2 separate regions of the Homo sapiens genome follow, and region 1 is linked to region 2. Evidence: fine-mapped expression QTL. Tissue or cell type: whole blood. Region 2 holds a variant in brackets; the other region holds the start of a gene. All regions are shown on one strand. Distances are between the middles of the regions. Region 1 holds the start of ZNF35 (zinc finger protein 35). Region 2 holds the start of ZNF197 (zinc finger protein 197).

The links.
Region 1: it holds the start of ZNF35, and the variant in region 2 is fine-mapped to the expression of ZNF35 in whole blood (INTERVAL, PIP above 0.99).

The regions. Positions count from the first base shown.
Region 1 is chr3:44,646,388-44,651,766 of GRCh38, forward strand. It overlaps ZNF35 (zinc finger protein 35), which reads left to right and starts at 2,345. Exons shown (of 4, transcript NM_003420.4): 1 at 2,345-2,447; 2 at 4,554-4,872. The coding sequence starts at 4,681. ZNF660-ZNF197 (ZNF660-ZNF197 readthrough) reads left to right here. Exons shown (of 8, transcript NR_147692.2): 8 at 1-2,084. It overlaps ZNF197 (zinc finger protein 197), which reads left to right. Exons shown (of 6, transcript NM_006991.5): 6 at 1-2,084. The region is part of intron 2 of ZKSCAN7-AS1 (ZKSCAN7 ZNF cluster antisense RNA 1); the gene reads right to left. RefSeq lists enhancers at 2,030-2,589, 2,468-2,637, 2,718-2,827.
Region 2 is chr3:44,621,254-44,626,632 of GRCh38, forward strand. The region is part of intron 2 of ZNF660-ZNF197 (ZNF660-ZNF197 readthrough); the gene reads left to right. ZNF197 (zinc finger protein 197) reads left to right here and starts at 3,783. Exons shown (of 6, transcript NM_006991.5): 1 at 3,783-3,890. The region is part of intron 2 of ZKSCAN7-AS1 (ZKSCAN7 ZNF cluster antisense RNA 1); the gene reads right to left. It overlaps ZNF197-AS1 (ZNF197 antisense RNA 1), which reads right to left and starts at 3,544. Exons shown (of 2, transcript NR_046658.1): 1 at 3,469-3,544. RefSeq lists a silencer at 3,787-4,136 and an enhancer at 4,116-4,618. The variant AAAAAAG/A (reference allele first, on the strand shown) is at 1,996.

The sequences.
Region 1 (5,379 bases), 25 kb after region 2:
GCTTAGATTGAGACAGCCCACATAATGTGCCACCTTCTGTGATGTAATAAGCTGAAAAATGTTCAACCTGAATTTAATCAAGCTTCTTGGACCTCATTGCCAGGTTACAGGAAATACAGGAGGCAGAGGAACAAATAAAAGACACCACGAGAAACAGACACATCCAGAACGTGGAATATTGCATAAGAAAGCTGCCCTGGATTCTTCAAAATATTATTATGATGAAAAAGAGAGGGGAGTGAAAATTGTTCAAGCTGTCTTGAGTCTGCTGTGAGTTTATTATACCATTCTCTGCTTTTGTGTATGTATGAAAATTTCGATATGAAAGGTATAAAACATGGATGAGGAGGCTTGTTTTTAAAAGATAATACTAGAGAGCCGTTAGGTACTAAGAACCAGAAATAGACTCACATAAATGGCCAATTGATTTTTGACAGGGGCAAAAGCAATTCAATGGAGGAGGGATCGCCTTTTCAGCAAATACTGTTGGAGTAATTGGATATCCATAGGCAGTAAACCAACAACTTCAGGACCTAGGACTGAGCTAAGAAGGCTCAGATGACTCAAAAGCATGCTCCTTAGAAGGAAAAAAAATGTTAAATTGGACTTCATCAAAATTAAGATAATTTACCCTGTAAGAGACCTTTTTACAAAGATGATATTACAGGTTGGGAAAAAATATTTGCAAATCATATCCAACAAGGGATTTGTATGTAAACTACATAAAGAACTTTCCAAATTTAACAGTAATAAGTAAATACAATTAGAAAATAAGCAAAAGACAGACATTTCACTGAAGTATAGATAGCAAATAAGCAAATGAAAAGATGTTCAACATCATTAGGCATGAGGGAAATGCAGAGTAAAATCGTGAGATATCACCTATCAGAATAGCTTAACTTTTTTTTTTTAATGGTGGTAACTGCTGGCAAGGATGAAGAGAAACAGGATCTCATACATTGCTGGGAATGTAAAATGGTACAGCCACTCTGGAATATAATTTGGCAGTTTCTTGTAAAACCACACATGTATATGTCATGCTTCAGGAATTGCACTTCTGAGCATTTATCCCAGAGAAATGAAAACTTGCGTTCACACAAAAACCTGTATACGAATGTTCATAGCAGCTTTATTTGTAATGGTCGAAACCTGTAGGCAACCCATATATCCTTCCTTAGGTGGTTAAAACAAATTGTGGTTTATGTATTACCATGGAATACTTGTTACTCTGCAATAAAATTGACTTATTGATATCCATAACAACTCAAATAAATTTCAAGGGAATTAATGCTGAGTGAAAATAATCACAAAAGGCCATATTCTGTATGAAAATATTCATATAACATTCTCAAAATGATAAAACTATAGAGATGAAAAATGGATTAATGGTTGCCAAAGGTTAGGGATGGTGGGAGGAAAAATGGGGAGAGGGTTGGATGGAACTATTAAAAGGTAGCACCAGAAAGGTCTTTGTGGTGATGGAACACTTGTGTATCTTGATTGCAGTGGTGGTTACACAAATCTATAGGTGCTATACCTATACACACATACTGTACCAATGTTGATTTCCTTTTTCATTTTATGTAAGATGTAACCATGAGGGGAAAGTGGGTGAAGGGTGCTATCTTTGCAACTTCCTGTGATTCTATCATTTCAAAATAAAAAGTAAAAACCAACAATGGCAACGAAAACCCAAAACTAAAGAGCTGTAACCAACTAAAGTGTGTGAAACTGATTTGAAAAAAAGTTATAAAATACATGTTTTAGGACAGTTGGGAAATTTGAATATGACTGGTTATTAGATGGTATTAGGGAATTTTTGTTGATTTTCTTACCTGTGACGGTGGTGGTAGTTTGAAGAATATTCTTAATCTTAAGGGATGCATGTTGAAGTATTTGGAATGAAGTGTTCTGATGTTTACAACTTTCAAAAAAATGATTTTAAATATGTATTGAGAGATCAGGCAAACATAGCAAAATGTTCATTGTTGAGTCCACATGGAAAATACGGGTATTCAATGTGCCATACTTTCAACTCTTCTGTACTCTGATATTTTCAAAATAAAACATTTGAGGGGAAATTATCAGGGCTTTCTACAGATTAATGCTGTGTAGCTTCAGGCTCTTGGGTGCGCGCCTCGCCTGAGTGTCTCATCCCTGCTTGGGATGCGCCCCTCCCTGAGGCTCACTTAGAGCTTCCAACAGCACAATCCTCCTAAGCGCTTCTGCCCCATCCCTGGTCTGGGGCGACATTGGACACCCATCGAGAGGAAAGCACCTCCGAGGTTCCTAGAGAGGCCGGCTTGGCGACTTGGGGAGCCGGAAGCCCATCCCGAGGCACTTCCTGTCCGGTCATTGTTCTCGTGCCGGTAGAAGCTGAAGTACCGGTCAGCCAGCCTCCTGCTGCAGAGCCAGTGAACTCAGGTCGGGCTTCTCAGCTGCGCACAGTGAGTGGGGTCGGAGGGGGTGGGCACGAACGTCGAGGGAGAAAAAGGGGCTCTCCCAGGGGCCATGGCCCTAGGAGCGGCCCCTGCGTCCTTTCCCCGGGGACACCAGCCTTGTCTGTCGGGGTGCGGGGGGCAGTGAGTTCCCCACCGCCTCGGAATCCCGGCTGCTGCCCACCTGGGGCCTGGTCCGGGAGAGGATGCACACGGACCGGCCAAGGGGCCAGATAGGTCCCAGGGACAGGGCCGCGAGGAGCCTATACGTGGAAAGAATGGATTGCCACGTTTGGAAATAGAGAAAGGACGTTGAAAGGGAGCCTTTGATAGAGGGCCCTGTGCCGTCTGGGACCGGAGGTCCGTCAGAATCTGATCAGAAGTCTGATGAGAGTACTCACTGTAGGCAGTCTTATACACAAGGTGGAACTAGTCTTAAGGACCTTCATACCAGATTGAATTCGGATAGTGATGGAAAGAATAGTCCTCCAGAATTAAGGTTTGTCACAGGAATGAAAGTATTGCATTACTTAATAAATTCAGTGTATACAGTAAGTGGCCAGTAAGTTGACATGGGGAAAAGAGTATGATCACTTCAATAGCAGCAACAGGGGATTGAATAAGATTTCGCACCCTTTTCCAATAAAACATTCAAAGGGGGTTAGAAAGAAAAATTTCAATCTCTTCATAAGCAATCAAACTAGTAAGGTTATTTTGCTCACAGGTTAAAAACAAAAACCCTGCTGGCTTAGCTGTGATAAAGGGTTACTGTCAATTAGTGGGGGTGTGAATTGGCATGGTGCTTTTGGAAAGCAATTTGACAGTACATATCAACCAGCAAATCCTTGAACCAGTAATTCTCTGATTATTCTAAAGGAATAATTCAGCAAAAAAAAAATATTTACAAAGAAAAACTTTTAAATATTAATAAAATGGAAATATAAACTTTTACTAAATAAATGGTTCATAAATAGAATATGATTAAGTAAATGATAATATAGCCACAATTTAGAATACTATGCCAGAATGAGGTAGTTCTATATGTGTTGTATTGAAAGATTGTTAAGACTATTGTGAAATACGGAAATTGAGTTAAAAAACAATGCAGGTTGCTGAACAGTATATAACTGTGATGATCTAAAGTATGTTTTTGAAAAATAAGCAATATGTGTGAAGGTGAACATATAAGTATGTAAATGCAGAGAAAATGGGTTAGGACTCCCATCTAAACTGATAAGTACTTTGTGTGTGTGTGTGTGTGTGTGTGTAGTGTGTGTAGGTTATATATTTAATTCTATATATTTCTGTATTACTTGATCCTTTTTCAATGAGAGTGAAGATTTATCAACACCATAGGTTATTGTGTAGCATTTAAAATAAGCATGAAGAATGGCAACATGAAAGTAATCTTTTTTTAAATCTTAAGTGTAATATTTTATCTCACAGGACATTTGGAAGCTATGGAAAATGTAAAAATCAAACAAAAAAAATGAAAAGAACCTTAAAACTACCTGTAATTACACCATCCAGAGTTAACTACCCACTGCTAACACGTTGGTATAAAGACTCCCAGTCTTTTTCTTGGGATCCTTTTGTTCACATTATTTTGTATCCTTGGCAATAAAAAATCTTTTTGTTGTAAAATCCTTTTTTAAAAAATGCTATGATGATAATTGTGAAAATATGTATCCCCAAAGTCAAAAACAAGAATTTGTAAAATCATAATTATTAGTAGTATGGTTGGAGATTTTCCTTTGAAAGAAATATCTTAAATCTTAAAATGTATAGTGGTTATCTCTTTGGAGGTAGACCGAGATGATTTTTCTTAATCATTTGCTGCTTTTAAGTTTTTACAATAAAAGTAAGTTAACTTTTAATCAGGAAAAAATCAATAAACATTATATAAAGCTGTTTGCAATGTGGTTATTATGGGAAGATATTACATATTTATAGTCCAACCCCTTCATCCTATGAGGGAGGAATAGAGGATTCCATGTCCTACATTGGCCCCTGGCCAGGCGCTGGTGAAATTTGCCGGTGTGGCATCCGGCAAATTTGCTAAGTGGCATCCAGCAAATCTCTCCTTGGTGCTAACAGTGTTTTCTGATTTCTCAGTAGGCAGTACTCATCTTGGCCCTGGGAAGAAACTCAAGAAGAAGCTTTTGAAACATAAAGCTTGGATGGGGTTTGACCTCTGCAGGGCAGCGCCCAGCTATAGGAGTTCCCCTGCTGAGCAGAGAAGATGACTGCAGAATTGAGAGAAGCCATGGCCCTAGCCCCATGGGGCCCAGTGAAGGTGAAAAAGGAGGAGGAAGAAGAAGAAAACTTCCCAGGTCAGGCATCCAGCCAACAAGTGCACTCCGAGAACATCAAAGTCTGGGCCCCAGTGCAGGGTCTTCAGACAGGCCTTGATGGATCAGAAGAGGAAGAAAAGGTAAACGGGGGCCTGAGAGGAAGAGGGGAGGAGATACTTGAAGACCTCAAGTAGTTTAAGAGGGGACTCTGCCCCTCTGCTTCCACACCTGGAGTCTTATTTCTTGGGTACAATTCTAGCTTCCAGTCTTTTGTAATAGGATAGAAACATTCCCTTCTGATTGATGTGACATTCAGTACTTTCTGTAAACCAGTGGTTCTCAAATTTTGCTACACAGAACCTGGAGAGCTTTTTATAAAATCTTGATGTCCATACTGTATTCTATTCCTATTAAATCAGAATCCGTGGTCCAGGCACAGTGGCTCACACCTGTAATCCCAGCACTTTGGAGGCCAAGGCGGGAGGATCACTTGAGGTCAGGAGTTCAAGACCAGCCTGAGCAACATTGCACACCTCGTGTTTTGCAATGCCGAAATACAAAAAATTAGCTTGGCATGGTGGCACGTGCCTGTAGTCTCAGCTACTTGGGAGGCTGAGGTGGGAGGATTGATTGAGCCTTGGAGGCAT
Region 2 (5,379 bases):
TTGCCCTCCTTAACATGAGTGAGCCTCATCCAAGCCATTGGAGATGTGAGTAGAAGGAAAAGACTGAGAGAGAATTTGCTCTTTCTGCCTGTCTTCTGGCTGGGACATTGGTCTTCTCCCACCTTTGGTGATATGGTTTAGATTTCTGTCCCCGCCCAAATCTCATGTCAAACTGTAATTCCCAATGTTGGAGGTGGGGCCTGATGGGAGGTGATTGGATCATAGGGATGGCTTTACCCCTTGGCTCTGTGTTGAGATAGTGAGTGAGACCTGGTTGTTTAAAAGTGTGTAGCACCTCCCTCCTCCCCCGACCCTTGGTCCTTCTGCTGCCACATAAGACATCTGCTCCCACTTTGCCTTCCCCCATGAGTTCCCTGAGGCCTCCCCAGAGGCAGATGGTACCATGATTCCTGTACAGCCTGCAGAACTGTGAGCCAATTAAACCTCTTTTCTTTATAAAGTTCCCAATCTCAGGCATTTCTTTATAGCAGTGCGAGAACAGACTAACACATTTGGATTCCGACTAGGACTCAGACTGGAAGTTACACCAGCAGCTTTTCTGCTTCTTAGGCCTATAGATCTTGGACTACAACTATACCTTCAGCTCTCCTGGGTCTTCAGATTGCATGTCTTGAGATTTCTTAGCCATATATATTATATACATATAATCCTTGGTCATAGGTCAATCACATTCCAATTTGCATTAAAAACAACTCTGGCAAAGTGGGGTTTTATAGAAAGATGAGAAATACAAACTTTCCATTCAGACCGGGATTTCCATTTTAGTTGATCAGTAGTCTAAGATCTTAACCCATCTTGAAATGTCAGTCCTGTGCTTCCAGCCTCTTCTCATATGCCTATCTCAAACTCATTTATTTCTTGTTTGCTTAGTTTTTTTCACCAGTACATTTGGGGATTTTAAATACCAGGAATGTGTGTGTATGTAAAACAAAGGCTATGTGTTGTATTATACCACTGTCCCAGAGCTCTGGCCCACTTTAAACAGGTTTTGTATAGTTCCACCTTGGTCAAAGATAGGGTGTTCCTTTCCTATCACCATCATTCCACAAGGTTACCAAGTCTTTCATCTTGGGACAGTGGTGAGGGTGCTTCAAGTTCTTTGTCAGATGGGCAGAATCTCAGGGCACAAACTGAGTGACAAAACTGAGGCTCTGGGCTGGCCACTGGCAACTGGTGGTTCTTACCAGCTGACAACTCTTTGGTTACATGCTTCCGGGCCATTGCTTAGTAGGAGTGTGAATGATTACAGGCTCACTGGTCAGTGGTCCATAGTCTAGTTGGTCATTTTGGCTCCTCCCATTCCTTTCTTCTTTCCCAGCAAGGCAAGAATGTTTTTCACCTTACTAAAGGCTTCTAATGGCCTAACTCACTATCGTTTTTGTCACTTTTGTTTCCAGTCCCATAGTGTGTAACTCCTGTCTACCTAGGTAGGGCAGGGGAGGAGAAGGGAGCCTTGGTTTACAAGTAAAATTATAATTTAGTGTGGGGGGAACAGCAATCACATTGATCAATATTTCAAAATCTACTCATTCATACTTTGAGACCCATAAAGTACTATTTCCTTCTTCTCTTCCTACTTGATTGGCTGCTGCTTCTCAGTCTCCTTTGTTGGGTCCTCCTTACCCTTTTTTATGTCATCCAAAGGACCACCAGGATGGCTAGATAGTAGAAAAGAAAGTTGGCCGGCACAGTGGCTCACACCTGTAATCCTAGCACTTTGGAAGGCCGAGGCGGGTGGATTGCCTGAGCTCAGGAGTTTGAGACCAGCCTGGGCAACACGGTGAAACCCCATCTCTACTAAAATACAAAAAATTAGCCAGGCATGGTGGCGTGCGCTTGTAATCCCAGCTACTCAGGAATCTGAGACAGGAGAATCATTTGAACCCGGGAGGCGGAGGTTGCAGTGAGCGAGATCGCGCCACTGCACTCCAGCCTGGGCGACAGAGTGAGACTCCATCTCAAAAAAAAAAAAAA[AAAAAAG/A]AAAGAAAGAAAGAAAAGAAAGTTTTATTCACAACATCAGTTTACAAACTCGGAGAGATAGTCTCTGGCTTGAACTGAAAGTGGTGCTCTCTCTGAAGAACAAAGAGAAGGTTAGAGGTTTTACAAAAAGGAGGAATGTTACATATTGCTCTTTGAGAAAGTTCATTGGCAGTAGTAAGGGTGTGGGGAGCTGACAAGCTCCAGTTGGTGAGCAACTGCGGTGGGCAAAATTAGTCCTAGAGTTGCAGCAACTTATCTCAGAAGCTATAGATAAAACTGGTTTTGGCTTATAATAAGCAGTTTCAGCAGTCAAGCTTACAGAGAATAACATTCCTGGAGCAATGTTGTGTACCCTGAGTGCTTCCCCCAGCTAATTTCTCGACTTTCTTTTATTAGGTATGACAAAAATGACCCAATTCTTATGATCAGCTTTCACATTTCTTAGCATTTACCACCACCTGACACATTTTTATATTTGTTTTCTGTTTATCCCACTAGAAATGTAAGCCCCATGAGAACAGAGACTTTACCTCTTTATCTATGTCCCTAGTGCCCAGAACAGTATTTGGCATATGGCAAGTACTCAGTAGTTGAATGAATGAATGAATCAAGGCTGAAGTTTAAGTATGTTGTTTAATGAATGCCAGGAGAGAACATAAAGAAATAAACAGAATAAGCCTGGCACGGTGGCTCACGCCTGTGATTCCAACACTTTAGAAGGCCAAGGTGGGGGTGGATCACCTGAGGTCAGGAGTTCAAGACCAGCCTGGCCAACATTGTGAAACCCCGTCTCTACTAAAAAAAAAAAAAAAAAAAAAAAATAGCCAGGCATGGTGGCACGTGCCTGTAATCCCAGCTGCTCAGGAGGCTGAGGCAGAAGAATCGCTTGAACCCGGGAGGTGGAGATTGCAGTGAGCCAAGATTGCGCCACTGCACTCCAGCCTGGGCAACAAGAGCAAAACTCCATCTCAAAAAAAAAAAAAAGACATAAACAGAATAACATGAACCTTGCTCATTGAATAAACATTCATCTACAACCTATATGGCTTCAGCTTTGTACTAGGTGCTAAATACATGGGATCCATGCAGACATGGCCTTTGCCCTTTTGGAGACTTGTTTCAGCCATAGTCCCATATAGGGGTGTCAGTTCCAGAAGTCCAAACTTAAGAGACTGAAGACCAAAGAGAGGATCAGAGTGCCAGTTTCCTTTATATACACCTGACTTTACCCAGGGCGATGGACAGCTAGAATAACCTCTTCTTTCAGGGGAGAGATGTCCCTACCATTTGCACATTACCTTGCACCATCAACTTGATTATTATTTAATATCATAGCTCCAATATGTCATCATGTGGGCAAGAGATACACCACAGTAAGCGAATTCACAAGAGGGTGATTTATAAGTCATGTTATTATTTATAGTGAGAATTGCATAAGTTCAAGAAGAGACCAGAAAAGTCACCTACCAGGTCATTCAGACGTGAAGGTCACTCCCTATCAACCTCAATTGAAATGCAAATCAAAATAGAAATGTCCAACTCTCTTAGGAGGCAACAGGCATCCTGAGACCCTGGGTCCTGTCTTTCATCTCTGCACCCTTCCGGTCTGAAACAGCGGCCAGTTCTTGTTCGATGTAAGGAACACTAGTACCCAAGGGCTCAGGAGTTCCGCCTCTCTTCCCCAGTTCTGGGAAAAGAAACGAACCATAGAGATGTGGCTTCCTAGAGATCCGGGATGAGGGGCGGGGTGCAACCGGAAGTCGCAGTATTCTCGGCTCGGCCATTATTCTGTGCCTCGGCTGCCGGAAGGGCTCGTTCCTGTGTCATCTCCTAGCGGCCTGGCGCCGAGGCGGCGGTACGCAAGGCTGGAGCCGCAGCGGGAGCCCCCGGTGAGCGGGGTGGGCTCGGGGGCGGGTGGGCGTGCAGGGAAGGCGGCCCGGGACGCGGGCCTGAGCTTGCTGGGACTGCACAGCCCTCGGTAGCCTCTCCCGGGCCCTGACCCCCGGCATGGTCCGTCGCCAGCTTCGTGTTGGGGTTCGACGTCGTGGCCTCGGCTGGGCAGGCAGCCGGCCCGAGGGAAGTACTGAGGACAGCAGCTCCGAGTCTGTGTGTGTTTGTGGACCGGTGCTCCTGTCTAACGGACTCTGCTGGCGCTTTGAGAAGAGCTGCCTCAGTAGCCTGCTCCCCCAGCTCAGGCCTTTCTGCTCTTCCTCAGTCTTGTCTGAGGCTAATCCACAGAAACATTCTGAGGTTTCCCTATTACCGGTGGCGCCCAGACTCTTGAGGACGGATTTTTTTGTTTGTTTGTTTTAAGGGGTGGAACGATTTTAGCTTTTTTAGTCTTTTAGTTTTGTAATATAATGGTATTTAAAAATCAAACTTGAAAAACTCAAACTTGAAACCACCCATACCAACATTACTTCAGGCAATACATTTTAACACAAAGTACTAAGACCGTAAACTCAGAATAAATGCTGGCCTTTGCGCGCGCGCGCGCACACACACACACACACACACACACACACACACACACTCATTGCCAACCTGTCAGCGACGATTGTTACTGGTTTTCTCTTTTTGCAGCTTACCAGATTAAAGCTTTGTCGTGGACTGGTGTTTGGAAACTGTTGTTTTAGAACAGTTTGGGTTGTTTGGGTTTCATAAGTTTCTTCGTAGATGGAATTGTTTTGGACTTCTGGAATTAGAATCCCTGAATTCAGAATTTGCTCCCATGTCTCAGTTAGCTAAGTGGCCTTGAGTGGATTCGCTCCTCTGATCCTTTTGTTTTTTTTAACTTCTGCTTTGAAAACCTTTTGTGAGAAGCTAATAAAATGTATGTTTAAGAATTTGTTATTTTTATGTTATTTGAAAATTATTCAAAATTCTTTTTAAAAATTCCTTTCCATCACCCCCAGATCAGTTACCAAGGACTACCAAGTTTTTCTCAATTGCCTTATCCCTACTTCGTTTAGAACTTAAGTCATGTGTTTAGACTATTAGAAAAACCTAACTGACCTTTCTTGATATCCAGCCCTCCCACCCCCACCATTTCTCACTAATAGAGTCCTGACACCACTTAAGACTCTCTTCATGCTCAGAGTGAAAAAGGTCTTTCTAATTGTGGTACAGTACCCAGAAGTCGTAAAAGATTGACTGCATGGCAAAAAACACTTTAAGCAAAGTCACATGGCATATATAGTCACAAAGACACTTGACAAACTGAGAAAAATTTGCAGCTGCCATTGTAAACAAAGGACTAATTTTCCTGTGATAAAAGTGTGTACAAATTAACAAGACCCAACACCTCAATGGAAACATGGGCAAAATATATGAATAGTTACTTTAAAAAATATACAAATGACTCTATATTAATTCGTT